Regions from separate parts of the Homo sapiens genome. Here region 1 is linked to region 2. A link means that fine-mapping ties the variant in region 2 to the expression of a gene that starts in the linked region. Tissue or cell type: lung. Region 2 holds a variant in brackets; the other region holds the start of a gene. All regions are shown on one strand. Distances are from middle to middle.

Region 1 (8,172 bases), 45 kb before region 2:
CCTGGGCAACAGAGTGAGACCATGTCTCAAAAAAAAAAAAAAAGTGGATTATTATGAAAATTTTCAAACATGCCATGCAGACATGGGGAGACCATGCAAACTCCACACAGATGGTGGTCCCAGCCCAAAATCAATTTTTAGAAAATCATCAATGTTATAATGAAATGACATTCAATGAAATGACATTGTGTGGGGGCCAGCTGTAGTTTGCTGGACTATTTGAAATCAGATCCTAGATGTTATACTATTCCCCTTTCCCCCAACCTGCCCCCGCCTTTTTTTTTAGAGACAGGGTCTCTCTCTCTCTCTGTTGCCCAGGATGGAGTGCAGTGGTGCGATCATAGCTCACCACAGCCTGGAACTCCTGGGCTCAAGCCATGCTCCTGCCTCAGCCTCCCAAGTAGCTGGGACCACAGACACACACTACTACGCCTGGCTAAATTTCTTTAAAAAAAAATTTTTTTTTTTGGTAGAGATGGGGATCTTGCAATGTTGCCCAGGGTGGTCTTGAACTCCCGGCCTCAAGTGATCCTCCTGCTTCTGCCTCCCTAGTAGCTGGGACCACAGGTGTATACCACCATACCTGGCTAATTTTTTAGTTTTTGTAGAGACAGGTTATTACTATGTTGCCCAGGCTGGTCTCGAATTCCTGGCCTCAAATGATACTTCCACCTGGGCCTCCCAAAGAGCTGACATTACAGGCGTGAGCCATGGTGCCTGGCCTCAGGGAAATTTCTAACCCCTCTTTTTTTGAGACGGAGTCTCGCTCTGTCGCCCAGGCTGGAGTGCAGTGGCTCTATCTCGGCTCACTGCAAGCTCCACCTCCCGGGTTCACGCCATTCTCCTGCCTCAGCCTGTAGCTGGGACTACAGGCACCCGCCACCATGCCCGGCTAATTTTTTGTATTTTTACTAGAGACGGGGTTTCCCCGTGTTAGCCAGGATGGTCTTGATCTCCTGACCTCGTGATCCGCCCGCCTCGGCCTCCCAAAGTGCTGGGATTACAGGCATAAGCCACCACGCCCGGCCTCTAACCCCTCTTTAGGGGTACGTAAAAATAAAACAATGCAATACCTACCCTCTTTATGTATTTATTCTTTATCTCTTTGTTAGAAGCATCCACACTTCTGTTTCTCTCCCTTAAGCCATAGTAACAACGGCTGCCATAGCCCAAGTCTGTGGGCCTCCCAAGTAGTGAAGTCTGGGAAGCAGCCTCCCACCTGCTCCCTACCCCTCTAGACTGCATCCCTCTGTCCCTTACAGAACCTTTTCTCCTCTAGCAACATTCAGAACACAGCCTTGGTCCCTCCTTCCCCAGACCCTCCTTCCTTCTTGCTGACTTGCTACAAACTATTCAAAAATTATCTTTGGGCAGTCTCTTTCTCTGCCTCAGGCACTGGTATCTGAGTCTAGAGGCCCTGGCACATTGTTGATCTCTGCAGAAATGTTTGTTGAGTAAATACATACAAATTTTTATATTTTAATTTGAGATGAAGTCTTGCTCTGTCACCCAAGCTGAAGTGCAGTGGCGTGATCTCAGCTCACTGAACCTCCGCCTCCCAGGTTGTGATTCTCCTGCCTCAGCCTCCCGAGTAGCCAGGATTGTAGGCACCCGCCACGACGCCTGGCTAATTTTTGTAGTTTTAGTAGAGATGGGCGTCTCATCATGTTGGCCAGGCTGGTCTCGAACTCCTGACCTCAAGTGATCTGCATGCCTCAGACTCCCAAAGTGCTGGGATTACAGACGTGAGCCACTGCTCCCGGCCTATACATATAAACTAATCATACTAAAGGTATAAATGTGAAATGGGTTTTAAGTGTTTTAATATTTCCCTCCCCTGGGAGCATTCTTAATAGCCTATAATATGTGGGACCTTTTACAATTTACAAGGCACTTTGGTATTATTTTACTACCCCTCCCCTTCCAAAGAATGGACTAAAGCCAGCTTGTCCAACCGCACGGGCAGCTTGTGGCCCAAGACAAATTGGTAAATTTTCTTAAAACGCCTAAGTTTTGGTTTTTGTTTTTGTTTTCGTTTTTTTTTTTTTTTTCTCTGAGACAAAGTCTCTCTCTCTCACCCAGGCTGGAGTGCAGTGGCCCGATCTGGGCTCACGTCAACCTCTGCCTTCCAGGTCAAGCGATTCTCCTGCCTTGGCCTCCCGAGTAGCTGGGATTACAGGCGCAGGCCACCATGCCCAGCTTATTTTTTCTATCTTTAGTAGACACGGGGTTTTGCCACGTTGGCCAGGCTGGTCTCAAACTTCTGATGTCAGGTGATCCACCAGCCTCGGCCTCACAAAGTGCTGGGATTTACAGGCGTGAGCCACCGCGCCCCGCCAGTGTTAAGAGTATTTTATGTGTGGCCCAAGACAAATTCTTCTTCCAATGTGGCCCAGGGAAGTTAAAAGAGTGGACATCCCCGGACTAAAGCGTCTCTCAGAGAGGTTGCACGATCTGCCTAAAGCCACACAGCAAGACTGCAAAGACGCTGCCATGGAAAGTAGCATTCGCAGGCTCCAGGGATCAGGCCGTGCCTATCTTTGCCGTGCCCATTTTCCAGCCCGTGGAAGGTACAACCGAGGTCTTCTCGAGCTGATTTACCCCCGCTGCAGAGCTGTGAGCCCAAGGGATTTCAGAGGGAGTTATTTCTAGGGGAGATAATGAGAAAAGAAAAGATAAATGAGAAAAGGGGAGGTCGAGGTCACGTCCCGTAGCGGCCCCCCGACAGTGCCAGGGTGGTAGCCGCGGTGGCCACACTCAGGTCGACCCTGGTCGTTGCGAGCGGCGCCGGGGGAGTCAAAGGTCACGAGAGGAGGACTCGGGCCACGGGGGCGGATAGCTTTGAGCCCAGACGGTGGAACGAGATCCGGGCACCCCCGGGAGGCTGCAGGGGGAGGCAGCCGATTCCCCCGCGAGCCAACTCAGGTGCTCTCCTGGCACCTGGGGGCGGTGGGGAAAGGGGGCGCGGCCGCCGGAGCACGCCCCCTGCTGGGCTGAGCCGCCGCCCGTCCCGTTCCCCACCCTCGGAGCCCCTCGGCCCGGAAAGCGGCACCCCCTGGCGGCCCCAGCGCCTCACTGCACCCCGGGCCCCGCAGCCGCAGCCTCGGCCCCGGACCGACGCTGGGTGCGGACCCGGGGCGCGCCGGGCGTACGGGTTGCACGGGGTGCACGGGGTACACGGTGCGGGGGCGTGGGCCCCAGGCTGCCGCTGGGGGGCGCCGCCGCACGCCGCTCCGCCGGGGCCGGGGAGACCGAACTCAGCACCGACCGGCCGGGCAGGGGGCGAGGGGCGGCGAGGAGCGGACGCCCAAAGACCGCGACGGGCTGGCGCCGGGCCCCCAGCGCCCCACGACCTTCCTCCGAATCTGCCCCCGCAGGCTCCGCGGCTCCCCCGCCCCGCGCCCCAGCCCCACGGCCCCGCGCCGCACGGCCGCTCCCGTTCCGTCCTTGGAGGGTGTGGAAGGGTGGGTTTGGGGCCGGGGGCGGGTCTGGGGGCGGACCCGGAGGCGGGGCTGTCTCTGCGGCAGGGCCCAGCTTCGCTCCCCCCGGTCTGTCTCTGTCTCTCCTCCTCCCTCCTCCTGCTCCGGGCGGAGCCCGGCATGGGGGGGCCGGCGCCCGGCAGGCCAGGTACGGTGATGGAGAACCTGGGGAGGCTTGGTGCAGGAAGGTTGGGGTGGGGGGACAAGGGACAGGGAGGATTGGCGGAGCGAAAGGCGGAGAAGCCCAGGGTAGCAGGACAAGGGGAAGGGGAGGGGTGCCAGGAACCTGGGGCCCTTGGATGGAGAAGGGGGATGAAGCAGGCCAGGTTTGGAACAGGGGAAGGGGGAGGACGGCTGTAAGGAGGGGCGCCTGGGAGGAGAAGTGAGGCTGAAGGCGAAAAGAAGAGTGTGGGTTTGGGGGAAGGAAAACCGGAGCAGGTATGGAGGCCGCAGCCCAGAAGGTAGCAGTGGGGCCAGACTGGAGCCCCCCGGGTGGGATTGAGGGGCGGGGACTGGAAGAGGAAAACCAGGGGGCCTCCCAAATCCTGGAGGAAGAAGAAGGTGATTGGGGCCATCAGCGAGGGAGGGAGGCAGAGACTAAACCATTGCTAAAGGGCCAGGGAGCCAGAATCGGGGTGGACCAAGGCCCAGGCCCGGGGAAGGACTGGAAGTGGGGGAAGGCAGGCAGTGGAGATAGATGGATGGGTGGTATTTTAGATACCCAACTCAGGGTGTCTCCCATCCTTCCTTCAGCGTCCCCACCCTGCCCTCATGAGATCCCCCTACAGCCCAAGATAGGGGGGAGAGTCTGACCATCTCCCCTTTTCCCAGTGGGGTGCAATGTACGCAAGTAGGCCCTGGGCATAACTCTGCCTGTAGGTGTGTCCAGTTCTGTGTAGCAGATTTGTGTGTGTCTGGAGGTCTGTGGGTGTGTCTGTGGGTGTTTATGTCTGTGTGCCTGTCTATCCCTAGGTTTCTGTTTACCTATGCCAATCTCTGCGTCTGGTCCTCTGTCTGTAGATGTGGGTCGGTGGCTCCGTGGTTTGTGTGTCTGAATGTGTACTTGTGTAGCTGAGGGGTTGCAGTCCGTTTGTGGGGCCTGTATGGGTGGTGGATCGGGATGTCTTTACACAAGAAGGGAATCTGTGTTGACCTGGTCTCTCCAGAGTGTGTATTTGGGGCTCTGAACACCTTTGTCGGGGTCTGTGTCTGTCTGTCTGTGGGTCCTCGAAGCTGTGTTGGGTTTTCTGTCTGTGTTTTCCTCTCTGAGGACCCGAGTCATGTCTCTTCTCCGTTTTCTCTCTTTCATTCATCCCTGGCCCCCACCCATCCCACCTTTCTTTTTTTTCCGTTCTCACCCACCCCGCCCGCCAGTGGATCCGGGACCCAGGGAGGGCCGCCCCCCGGGCCTGGTGGCACTGAGCAGGGCCCCCCAGCCCCCACCTCCTGCCCCACGAGATGAACCTCCTCTACCGAAAAACCAAGCTGGAGTGGAGGCAGCACAAGGAAGAGGAGGCCAAGAGGAGGTAAGGCTGCACCCCAGACTGCTCCCTTCCCTTCCGCACCTCTGCCTGCCCCCTCACTGGGCCACAGCCCTTCTCGGGGGCCGGCAGCCTTGTCATGAGTGAGCTCTCTGATCTCAGAGTCAGTACGGAATGGCCAGGATTGCACACACTGTCCTGGCCCAACTCCTGCTCTCCTGTGGGGGGGTTTACAGCCTAGGAGCACCCCTTTGGTTGTTCCCCATCCCCAGAGGCCCGAGTCACTCCTTCCTGACTCACCTCTGGCCTGTAGCCCTTCTCCTTTCTGCAAATTTGGGGCTGGCTGCGGGCTCTCCTGTCACCTGACCTTGGAAGGGGCAGGCCCCGCCTCTCTCCCAGGGTCTAGGGAAGGGGTCATTTCAGGGGCATCAGAGAACATCCACTTGGCCTCCTCCCAGTTTTCCCTGCTGGGGGAGGTGAGTGGTCAAGTGATGGGGTTGTGTGTGTGGTGGGCAGACATGCAGGCTGGGCCTTGCCAAAGAGCCAGGGCAGGGGACGACCTCCAGACCCCTGCAATCCCTGTCTGCCTCCCCGCTTGCCCTTCCAGGGACCTGGGGCCTGGCCTCTCCCATCCTTCTCTCCTTCTCCTCTTCTCTCCCATTGACTTCACAGCCACTTGGAGCCTGACTCACAGCCACCTCCCTTTTCCTTCCTCGCAACTGTGGAGTTTAATTCTTGTTGTTAATTAGATTAATCAGAGTGATCGCTGCAGCGATCTCTCCCTAATGAAGGGCTAGTAGACAGGGCCTTAATGAGTGCCCACCCCACACAGCTCTCCTCTCTTCCCTGCCAGCCGCCCCCCCAACCCTCTGCCACCCTCCACTCAGACAGAAGCTCAGGGACAGTGGAATGGAATGGGGGTGAGCCGGGGAGGCTGACAGAGAGAGAACAGCACCAGGGGAGAGGGAGGAAGAAGGATGGGCCAGGGAGGGAGGCTGCTCTGGTCCTGGAGGGGCACATCCTGCATCTGGGAGAGGAGGTGTGCCGTGGGGGCAGAGGTCACAGTGGCTGGGCAGGAGGGGTAACCAGAGGCCAGGTGTGGGCCACTGTGAGAGTGAGAGGGGCCAAGGAGCTGTGGGGGGCAGGCGTGTCCATCTGTGTTACCTGGGTTTGTATCTCTACCTCTGCACAAGGCTGTCCACACAGGTGCCCAGGCTGGGATCCGCCAGCCCCAGGGATGCTCCCCTGCAGGCATACTCACCCCTCTTCTCATCCCTGCCCCCAACTGCCTTGTGTTTTTAAAGCCCAAGATTCTGCCTGAAGCCCCTTCATTGGTGCCCTGGACCTTCTGGCAACCCTGTCCCCACCCAGGCTCCCGTCCTCTTCCCTGGGAAGCCACAGGGTTGCTGACACCTCTTGGGGTGGAGAAGGGGGATGCCCAGGTCCGAGGCCCTTCCTCCACTCCATCGTGGCCTTCTCTCCCCAGCTCCAGTAAGGAGGTGGCCCCCGCTGGCTCGGCTGGGCCCGCGGCCGGCCAGGGGCCTGGGGTCCGCGTGCGGGACATCGCCTCGCTGCGGCGCTCCCTCAGGATGGGTTTCATGACGATGCCCGCCTCCCAGGAGCACACCCCGCACCCCTGCCGCAGCGCCATGGCCCCACGCTCCCTCTCCTGCCACTCGGTGGGCAGCATGGACAGTGTCGGGGGTGGCCCTGGCGGGGCCAGTGGGGGCCTCACAGAGGACAGCAGCACCCGAAGACCCCCTGCCAAGCCCCGGAGACACCCCAGCACCAAGCTCAGCATGGTGGGGCCTGGGTCTGGGGCAGAGACGCCCCCCAGCAAGAAAGCAGGTGAGATACCCCCTATCTCTCCCTGGGGTGGAGCTGGGAGCTGGGAGGATCTATTCCACGCCCGGGGAGGCTTGCCGGGAGGGTTCATTCAGGGAAGAACCAAGGAAGTGGAAGATTCCATTCTCAAAAGGAATTGGGGGGGTCCTTTTGGATGGGCCTGAGATGAACCATTCAAGGGCAGGGGACACTCCCTGAAAAGTTCTTGAGAAAGGGGTGGTGGCCTCAGAGGGACAATGAAGGTAGGAGCTGCGAATTCTGGAGAATACGTTAGAAAGACTGAGGGCTGTGGGACAAGCCCCGTGGCTCACGCCCGTAATCTCAGCACTTTTTTTTTTTTGAGACAGAGTCTCGCTCTGTTGCCCAGGCAGGAGTGCAGTGGTGCGATCTCAGCTCACTGCATCCTCCGCCTCCCAGGTTCAAGCAGTTCTCCTGCCTCAGCCTCCCAGGTAGCTGGGATTACAGGCGTCCGTCACCACGCCCGGCTAATTTTTTGTATTTTTAGTAGAGACAGGGTTTCGTCTTGTTGGCCAGGCTGACAAGGCCAGGCTTGCTGGCCTCAGGTGATCCACCCACCTCGGCCTCCCAGAGTGCTGGGATTACAGGCGTGAGCCACTGTGCTTGGCCAATTAATTGACGTTTTAAAAAGACCAAGGGCTGACTAGTAGAAAAGGAACCTACAGCTGGGCATGGTGGCTGATGCCTGGAATCCTAGCACTTTAGGAGGCCGAGGCAGGAGGATCCCTTGAGCCCAGGAATTTGGGACCAGTCTGGGCAACATGGCAAGACCCATCTCTATTAAAAAATAAAAAAGAAATGAAGAAACCTCCTGGGGCTGTAAGTTGAGGAATGTGGGGAAAAGGAAGAGGCAGATATGTCCTTGCAGAAGGGTCAAGGGATCAGAATGGGCTCCTCCCACTTGCTCCCCTCATTAAAAGCCTGGTTTATTTTTCTCTTTCTTGTCCTGTCCAGGCTCACAGAAGCCAACCCCAGAGGGCCGAGAGTCCAGCCGGAAGGTTCCTCCGCAGAAGCCCAGGCGAAGCCCTAACACCCAGCTCTCTGTCTCCTTCGATGAGTCCTGCCCCCCAGGCCCCTCTCCTCGAGGGGGGAACCTGCCTCTTCAGCGCCTCACTAGGGGGTCCCGAGTAGCTGGGGACCCTGATGTGGGTGCCCAGGAAGAGCCTGTGTACATTGAGATGGTGGGGGACGTCTTTAGGGGAGGAGGACGAAGTGGAGGAGGCCTGGCTGGGCCCCCTCTTGGGGGTGGGGGCCCGACCCCTCCAGCGGGCGCCGACTCGGACTCTGAAGAGAGTGAGGCCATCTATGAAGAGATGAAGTACCCGCTGCCGGAAGAGGCTGGGGAAGGC
Region 2 (8,172 bases):
TTAGGTTTTTTGTTTGCTTTTTTGAGACAGAATCTCGCTCTGTCGCCAGGCTGGAGTGCAGTGGCGCGATCTCGGCTCACTGCAACCTCTGCTTCCCAGGTTCAAGCCATTCTCCTGCCTCAGCCTCTGGAGTAGCTGGCACTACAGGCGCCCGCCACCATGTCCGGCTAATTTTTGTATTTTTAGTAGAGACGGGGTTTCACCATGTTGGCCAGGCTGGTCTCGAATTCCTGACCTCGTGATCCATCCGCCTCGGCCTCCCAAAGTGCTGGGATTATAGGCGTGAGCCACCGCGCCCAGCCGGTTCTTGGTTTTTATCAGTTATACCATGGCACTTCATAGGTCTTGTTTTTTAGTTTGTTTTTTTTTTTGTTTGTTTGTTTGTTTGTTTGAGGTGGTTTCACTCTTGTCACACAGGCTGGAGTGCAGTGGCGCAATCTCAGCTCACTGCAACCTCTCCTTCCTGGGTTCAAGCAATTCTCCTGCCTCAGCCTCCTGAGTAGCTGGGACCACAGGTGCACGCCACCACGGCAAGCTAATTTTTATACTTCTTTTTAAAAAAAGTAAAAAGACACAGTCTCGCTCTTTTGCCCAGGCTGGACTGCAGTGGCGCTATCTCGGCTCACTGAAAGCTCCGCCTCCCGGGTTCAAGCCATTCTCCTGCCTCAGCCTCTCGAGTAGCAGGCGCCCGCCACTGCACCCGGCTAATTTTTTGTATTTTTAGTAGAGACGGAGTTTCACCATGTTAGCCAGGATGGTCTCGATCTCCTGACCTCGTGATCCTCCCGCCTCGGCCTCCCAAAGTGCTGGGATTACAGGCGTGAGCCACCGCGCCCGGCCTAATTTTTATACTTTTAGTAAAGACCGGGTTTCACCATGTTGGCCAGGCTGGTCTGGAACTCCTGACCTCAGGTGATCCACCTGCCTCAGCCTCCCAAAGTGTTGGGATTACATATGTGAGCCACCACACCTGACTAAGGTCTTGTTAATCTAGAAACTCATGCCCTTTAATTCTGGAAAATTTTGCTAAATTTTTCAGTAATATTTTTCCCCTCCATTTTTCTCTTCTCTCCTTCTGTAACTTCTATTATTTATATATTAGATCTACTGAACTGTTCTTTTATTTACCTTTAATCATTTTTTTCATCTCATATTTTAAACTGCTTTTTGCAGGATTTCTCCAATTTTATCTTCCAACCATTCAACTGAGGTTTTCATGTTTATATATTTAATTTCCAGGATTTCTTTCTTGTTCTCTGAATATTCCTTTTTTTCTGTTTTTTTTTTTTTTTTTTTTTTTTTTTGACGGATTCTTGCTCTGTCACCCAGGCTGGAGTGCAATGCCATGATCTGGGCTCACGGCAACCTCCGTCTGCTGAGTTCAAGCAATCCTCCTGCCTCAGCCTCCCAAGTAGCTGGGATTACAGGCTCCCACTATCACACTCGGCTAATTTTTGTATTTTTAGTAGAGACGGGGTTTCGCCATGTTGACCAGGCTGGTTTCGAACTCCTGACCTCAGGAGATCCACCTGCCTCGGCCTCCCAAAGTGCTGGGATTACAGGCGGGAGCCACTGCACCCGGCCTGAATATTCCTTTTAAAATAACGTTCTGTGTATATTTCATGAAAATGGTATCTTATCTCTCCAAGGATATTAATTATAGTGGGTTTTGGGTAAAATTTTCTTCTCTTTACATAGTATCTGTTTCTTTCCAATTGCTTCTCTTTGTTTTTGTTTTTCTTTTTAAGACAGGCTCTTGCTCCTGGGCTGTGTGATCCTCCCACCTCAGCCTCCCAAGTAGCTGGTACTACAGGCATGTGCCACCACACTTGGCTAATTTTTTAATTTGTTAAAATTTTTGTAGAGATGGGGTCTCACTTGTTGTCGAGGCTCGTCTCAAACTACTGGGATCAAGCAATCCTCCTGCCTCAGCCTCCAAAGCTGAGATTACAGGTGTGAGCCACCATGCCCCGTTCTGTATATGCCACAATTTCTCTATCCACTCATCTGTCAATGGACATTTAGATTATTTCTACCTTTAGGCTATCATGGATGGTGCTGCTATGAACTTTCGTGTACAAGTTTTGATTTGAATAGCTGTTTTAAACTCCTTAGGGTATATAACTAGGAGTGAAACAGCTGAGTCATATAGTAATTCTATATTTAACTTTATTTTTTTTTGAGACAGAGTCTCACTCTGTCACCCAGGCTGGAGTGCAGTGGCATGATCTCGGCTCACTGCATCCTCTGTCTCCCTGGTTCAAGCAATTCCCCTGCCTCAGCTTCCCGAGTAGCTGGGATTACAGGTGTACACCACCACACCCGGCTAATTTTTTATTTTTATTTATTTTTTATTTTTTGTATTTTTAGTAGAGATGGGGTTTCACCATGTTGGCCAGACTGGTCTCAATCTCCTGACCTCAGGCAATCCGCCCGCCTTGGCCTCCTAAAGTGCTGGGATTACAGGCGTGAGCCACTGTGCCCGGCCTCTATATTTAACTATTTGAAGAACTGGTAAACTGCTTTCCATGGCAGCTGCACCATTTTTCATTTCCACCAGCAATGTACAAGGGTTACAATTTCTCTACATCCTCACCAACAATTGCTAGTTTTCCCTTTTTTGATTACAGCCATCCTAGTGGATGTGAAGTGGTATCTCATCCATGGCTTTGATTGCATTTCCTAATGACTAATGATGTTGAGCATCTTTTTGTGTGCTTATTGGCCATTTGTGTATCTTCTTTGGAGAAATGTCTGTTCAAGTCCTTTGTCCCTAACTCCCGCTTTGTTCAAGGGTCAACTGTAATTGCAAAATCCAATGTCATGAAGCTCTTGCCCTATGGTTTATTCTAAATCTTTCTTAGTTTTAGGTCTGACATTTAGGTCTTTTATCCATTTTGAGTTAATTTTTGTATATGGTGTTAGGTAAGAGTTCCACTTCATTCTTTCACATGTAGATATGCAGTTATCCCAATACCATTTGTTGAAAAGACAGGTTTTTTTTGTTTTGTTTTGTTTCGTTTTTTTGAGATGGAGTATTGCTCTGTCGCCCAGGCTGGAGTGCAATGGCACAATTTAGGCTCACTGCAACATCCGCCTCCCTGGTTCAAGTCATTCTCCTGCCTCAGCCTCCCGAGTAGCTGGGAAGACAAGCACGTGCCACCACACCTGGCTAATGTTTGTATTTTTTTTTTTTTTTTTTTTTTTTTTTTTTTAGTAGAGACGGCGTTTCAGCACGTTGGCCAGGCTGCTCTTGAACTCCTGACCTCAAATGATCCACCCACCTCGGCCCCGCAAAGTGCTGGGATTACAGGCATGAGCCACCACACCCGAGCCTATATGTCTGTCTTTATGCCAGTACCATGCTGTTTTGATCACATGGCTTTGTAATAAGTTTTGAAATCAAGAAGTGTGAGTCCTCCAATTTTGTTAGTCCCTTTTTTTTTTTTGAGATGGAGTTTCGCTCCTGTTGCCCAGGCTGGAGTGCAATGGCACGATCTTGGCTCACTGCAACCTCCGCCTCCTGGGTTCAAGTGATTCTCCTGCCTCAGCCTCCCGAGTAGCTGGGATTACAGGCATGCACCACCATGCCCGCCTAATTTTGTGTATTTTTAGTAGAGATGGGGTTTCACCATGGCCAGGCTGGTCTTGAACTCCTGACCTCAGGTGATCTGCCCACCTCGGCCTCCTAGAGTGCTGGGATTACAGGCGTGAGCCACCATGCCCAGCCTGTTAGTCTTTTTGAATAGTGTTTTGGCTATTTGGAGTCCGCTGAGATTTCATAGAAATTTTAGCATGGGCTTTTCTATTTCTGCAGAACACATCATTGGAATTTTGATAGAGATTGCACTGAATCTGTAGATCACTTTGTTGGTTTTTGTTTGTTTGTTTGAGACGGAGTCTCGCTCTGTCACCCAGGCTGGAGTGCAGCGGTGCGATCTCGGCTCACTGCAACCTCCTCCTCCTGGGTTCAAGTGATTCTCCTGCCTCAGCCTTCTGAGTAGGTGGGATTACAGGTGCATGCCACCATGCCTGGCTAATTTTTGTATTTTTAGTAGAGACGGGGTTTCTCCATGTTGGCCAGGGTGGTCTCGAACTCCTGACCTCAGGTGATCCGCTTACCTACTCCTCCCAAAGTGCTGGGATTACAGGAGTGAGCCACTGAGCCTGGCTCTAAATCTGTAGATCACTTTGGTTAGTATTCACATCTTAACAATATTAACTCTTCCAATTCATGAACTGGGATGTGTTTCCATAAATTTTTGTCTTCTTTAATTTCTTTCAGCAATGTTGTATAGTTTTCATTTTACAAGTCTTTCACCTCCTTAATTTAATTAGGGTTAAATTAATCCCTAAGTATTTTATTCTGTGTGATGCTATTGTAGATGTAATTGTTTTTATGTTTTGTGGGGTTTTTTTGTTTGTTTGTTTGTTTGTTTTTTGAGATGGAGTCTCACTCTGTCACCCAGGCTGGAGTGCAGTGGCACGATCTCTGCCCACTGCAGCCTCCACCTCCCAGGTTCAAGCCATTCTCCTGCATCAGCCTCCCAAGTAGCTGGGACTACAGGCGTGGGCCACTACACCCAACTAATTTTTGTATTTTTTTTTAGTGGAGTCGAGGTTTCCCCATGTTGGCCAGTCTGGTCTCGAACTCCTGACCTCAAGTGATCTGCCCGCCTTGGCCTCCCAAAGTGCTGGGATTACAGAGGTGAGCCACCACACCTGGCCAATGTAATTGTTTTTGTAATTTCCTTTTGACATTGCTCATATTTAATATATAGAAGTGCAACCAACGTTTGTGTGAGTCTAATGCCCTTTTTTTTTTTTTAATTTAGAGACGGGTCTCACTATGTTGCCCAGGCCGTAGTACAGTGACTATTCACAGGCGTGACTCCACTGCTGATCAGCACAGGAGTTTTGACTTGCTCCATTTCCAACCTGGGCAGGTTCAACCCTCCTTAG[G/A]CAACCTGGTGGTCCCTCGCTTCTGGAAGGTCAGCACATTGTTGTTGAACTTAGGGCAGACACCCAATCAGCAGAGCACACTACAACCCAGGACTTCTGGACTCAAGCAATCCTTCTGCCTCAGCCTCCTGAATAGCTGTGACTACAGGTGCACACCACCATATCTGGCTCTAATGTCTTTTAAAACTGACATTTAGGCAGGGCACAGTGGCTCACGCCTGTAATCCCAGCACTTTGGGAGGCTGAGGCAGGTGGATCACGAGGTCAGGAGTTTGAGACCAGGCTGACCAACATGGCGAAACCTCGTCTCTACTAAAAATACAAAATTAGCTGGGTGTGGTGGCGGGTGCCTGTAATCCCAGCTACTTGGGAGGCTGAGGCAGGAGAATCACTTGAACCCCAAAGGTGGATGTTGCAGAGAGCAGAGATCGTGCCATTGAACGCCAGCCAGGGCAACAAGACCAAAACTCCATCTCAAAAAAAATTTTTAAAAATAAAATAAAATAAAATAAAATAAAATAAAATAAAATAAAATAAAACTGATTTTCAGTCAATATACTTATTTTTAACCTCTACCTTTACCCCAGATGTATTATACCTGTTGCCACCAATTCCTGAGGGGGCCACCTGAAGTTGTCTCACAGCTCACTGGTGTTCTGTTCATCTGTGGGTTTTGGGTTTTTATCAGTCTTTTTTCATTTTTCCAATATTTTAAAAAATAAGAGACAGGGTCTCGCTATGTTGCCTAGGCTGGTCTCAAACTCCTGGGCTCAACTGATCTTCCAGCCTCAGCCTCCCAAGTAGCTGGGATTATAGGTGCACACCACTGTGCCTAGCTCTATAAATCATTTTTATACTTTCTACTGTTATGTCTTCAAGTTCATAATATTCTCTTCTGTAGTATCTAGTCTGCTGTTAGTCCCATTCACTGTACTTTTCATCTCAGACATTCCAGATTTCATTTCTGGAGGATAGACTTGGGCATTTTTACTTTTTATTTATTTATTTATTTATTTTTTGAGACAGAGTCTCTCTTTGTCACCCAGGCTGGAGTGTAGTGAAATGATCTTGGCTCACTGCAACCTCCACCTCACTGATTCAAGTGATTCTCGTGCCTCAGCCTCCTGAGTAGCTGGAATTACAGGTGTGTGCCACCACGCCTGGCTAATTTTTATATTTTTAGTAGAGACGGGGTTTCACCATGTTGGTTGGCCAGGCTGGTCTTGAACTCCTGACCTCGTGATCCGCCCGCCTCGGCTTCCCAAAATGCTGGGATTACAGGCATGAGCCACCGCACCTGTGTGAAAGAGGAAGTTTCTAAATTAGTCCAGGTTACAAAGCAAGATGCCCTTATGGCTTGGCTAATCCAGTGGTGCCAGAGGGGTCTAGCCCACTCAACCTTTGCCATGCCCAGTAGACAATCTCCCTGGAGGCCTCTGGGGTGTTGAAACAAGACCACATTTCAGCAGATAATTATTCTTCTTCCGGGGAACATCTCCTAACTTGTTCCTGAAATTTAGTGTAAATATCTGGGATACAAAGTTACCATAGGATGGGCACATGGCTTATGCCTGTAGTCTCAGCAATTTGGGAGGCCGAGGCGGGTGGATTACTTGAGGTCGGGAGTTTGAGACCAGCCTGGCCAACATGGTGAAACCCGTCTCTACTAAAAATAGAAAAATTAGCTGGGCGTGGTGACAGGTGCCTGTAATCCCAGCTACTTGGGGGGCTGAGGAGGGAGAATCGCTTGAACCCATGAGGCGGAGGTTGCAGTGAGCTGAAATCATGCCACTGCATTCCAGCCTGAGTGACAGAGTAAGACTCCATCTCAATACACACACACACACACACACACATACACACACACACAAAACAAACAAACAAAACCAAGTTACCATGGGCTGGCCACAGTGGCTCACGCCTATAATTAATCCCAGCACTTTGAGAGGCCAAGGTGAGCAGATTGCTTGAGCACAGGAGTTCGAGACCAGTCTGGGAGACATGGTGAAACTCTCTCTTTACAAAAAATAAAAAAGCTAGCCAGGCATGGTGGTGTGCGCCTGTAGTCCCACCTCCTGGGGAGGCTGAGGTAAGAGGATCGCTTGAACCGAAGAATTAGAGGCTGCAATGAGCTATGACGGTGCCACTGCATTGCAGGCTGGGCAACAGAGCAAGACCCTGTGTCAAAAAAAAAAAAAAAAAAAAAGAAAGAAAGAAAGAAAAGAAAAACAAGACAGTTGGCCAGCCATGGGCCCCATTATCCTATTTCCCATGTACCAGAAACAGCTGGCCTTGTAGAACAATGAACTGGTGTACCAAAAACAAATCTAGCCAGTATCCACGAGACCACACTTGTGAGGCTGCAACGCTCCCTCGCTGATAGTGATATGTGATCCTCACAGTGACTGAATTGCAGCGCCCAGTCTTCCTCAGTCAATAGAGAGGTCCAGAAACCAAGGGTTGCAGTTAAGGGGGACAGTGGGGAGTAGCTGTCACTATTATTTTTCTCTCTAAAATTTTTTTGCTGGCCGGGCACGGTGGCTCATGCCTGTAATCCCAGCGCTTTGGGAGGTGGAAGCAGCTGGATCACTTGAGGTCAGGAGTTTGAGACCAGTCTCGCCAACATGGTGAAACCCCGTCTCTACCAAAAATACAAAAATTAGCCAGGCATGGTGGTGGGCGCCTATAATCCCAGCTACTCGGGAGGCTGAGGCAGGAGAATTGCATGAACCCGGGAGGTTTCAGTGAACTGAGATCGCGCCACTGCACTCCAGCCTGGGCAACAAGAGCAAAACTCCGTCTCAAAGAAAAAAAAAAAGATATTTGCTTTCCACGCCCCAAGTCACTCATGCTCTGTGGTTTAACTGCCCAAGGGCAAGGTTCTTGCCAGGGAACCCAATAAGAGTTCTACCTGGTTATTTAGGACTCCTCCTGCCACCAGGGCAAAAGGTCTCCCCATGCTGGCTGTGCTCCCCCTGATTATGAAGGGAAAATGGGAGTGTTGCTCCCCAGTATGACCTGGGTGGAGTAGAGATGGGAGGAGGGTGAGCTCCTCAACGGCCCTCACACCACCACACCCAGTGGCAAAAATCAGCAGAAAACCATCACTATCTACATGAACGTTCTAATTTTTTTCACTCACTATTGGTGGTAGTTAAATTTACCAATTTGCTCAAAGTTGCAAGATGATAAGAAATAACCCTTGGCTCA

Direction of the effects. Positions count from the first base shown, and alleles are read on the strand shown. Sizes are in standard deviations (SD) of each study's normalised expression.
With allele A in place of G in region 2, the expression in lung of the gene that starts at base 3,553 in region 1 is higher (large effect, 1.0 SD a copy in GTEx).

Evidence for each region. PIP is the estimated chance that this variant, and not a neighbour inherited with it, causes the effect.
Region 1: NYAP1 starts here. The variant in region 2 is fine-mapped to the expression of NYAP1 in lung (GTEx, PIP 0.94).

Annotation. Positions count from the first base shown.
Region 1 is chr7:100,480,375-100,488,546 of GRCh38, forward strand. NYAP1 (neuronal tyrosine phosphorylated phosphoinositide-3-kinase adaptor 1) reads left to right here and starts at 3,553. Exons shown (of 7, transcript NM_173564.4): 1 at 3,553-3,627; 2 at 4,854-5,005; 3 at 6,447-6,808; 4 at 7,778-8,172. The coding sequence starts at 4,938. RefSeq lists silencers at 2,889-3,278, 2,941-3,156, 3,329-3,598, 5,952-6,246 and enhancers at 3,848-4,374, 6,812-7,106.
Region 2 is chr7:100,525,529-100,533,700 of GRCh38, forward strand. It overlaps the pseudogene RN7SL416P. Among named protein-coding and RNA genes, the nearest start is that of AGFG2, 9.6 kb to the right of the region's middle. RefSeq lists an enhancer at 2,077-2,206 and a cis regulatory region at 7,805-8,149. The variant G/A (reference allele first, on the strand shown) is at 4,963.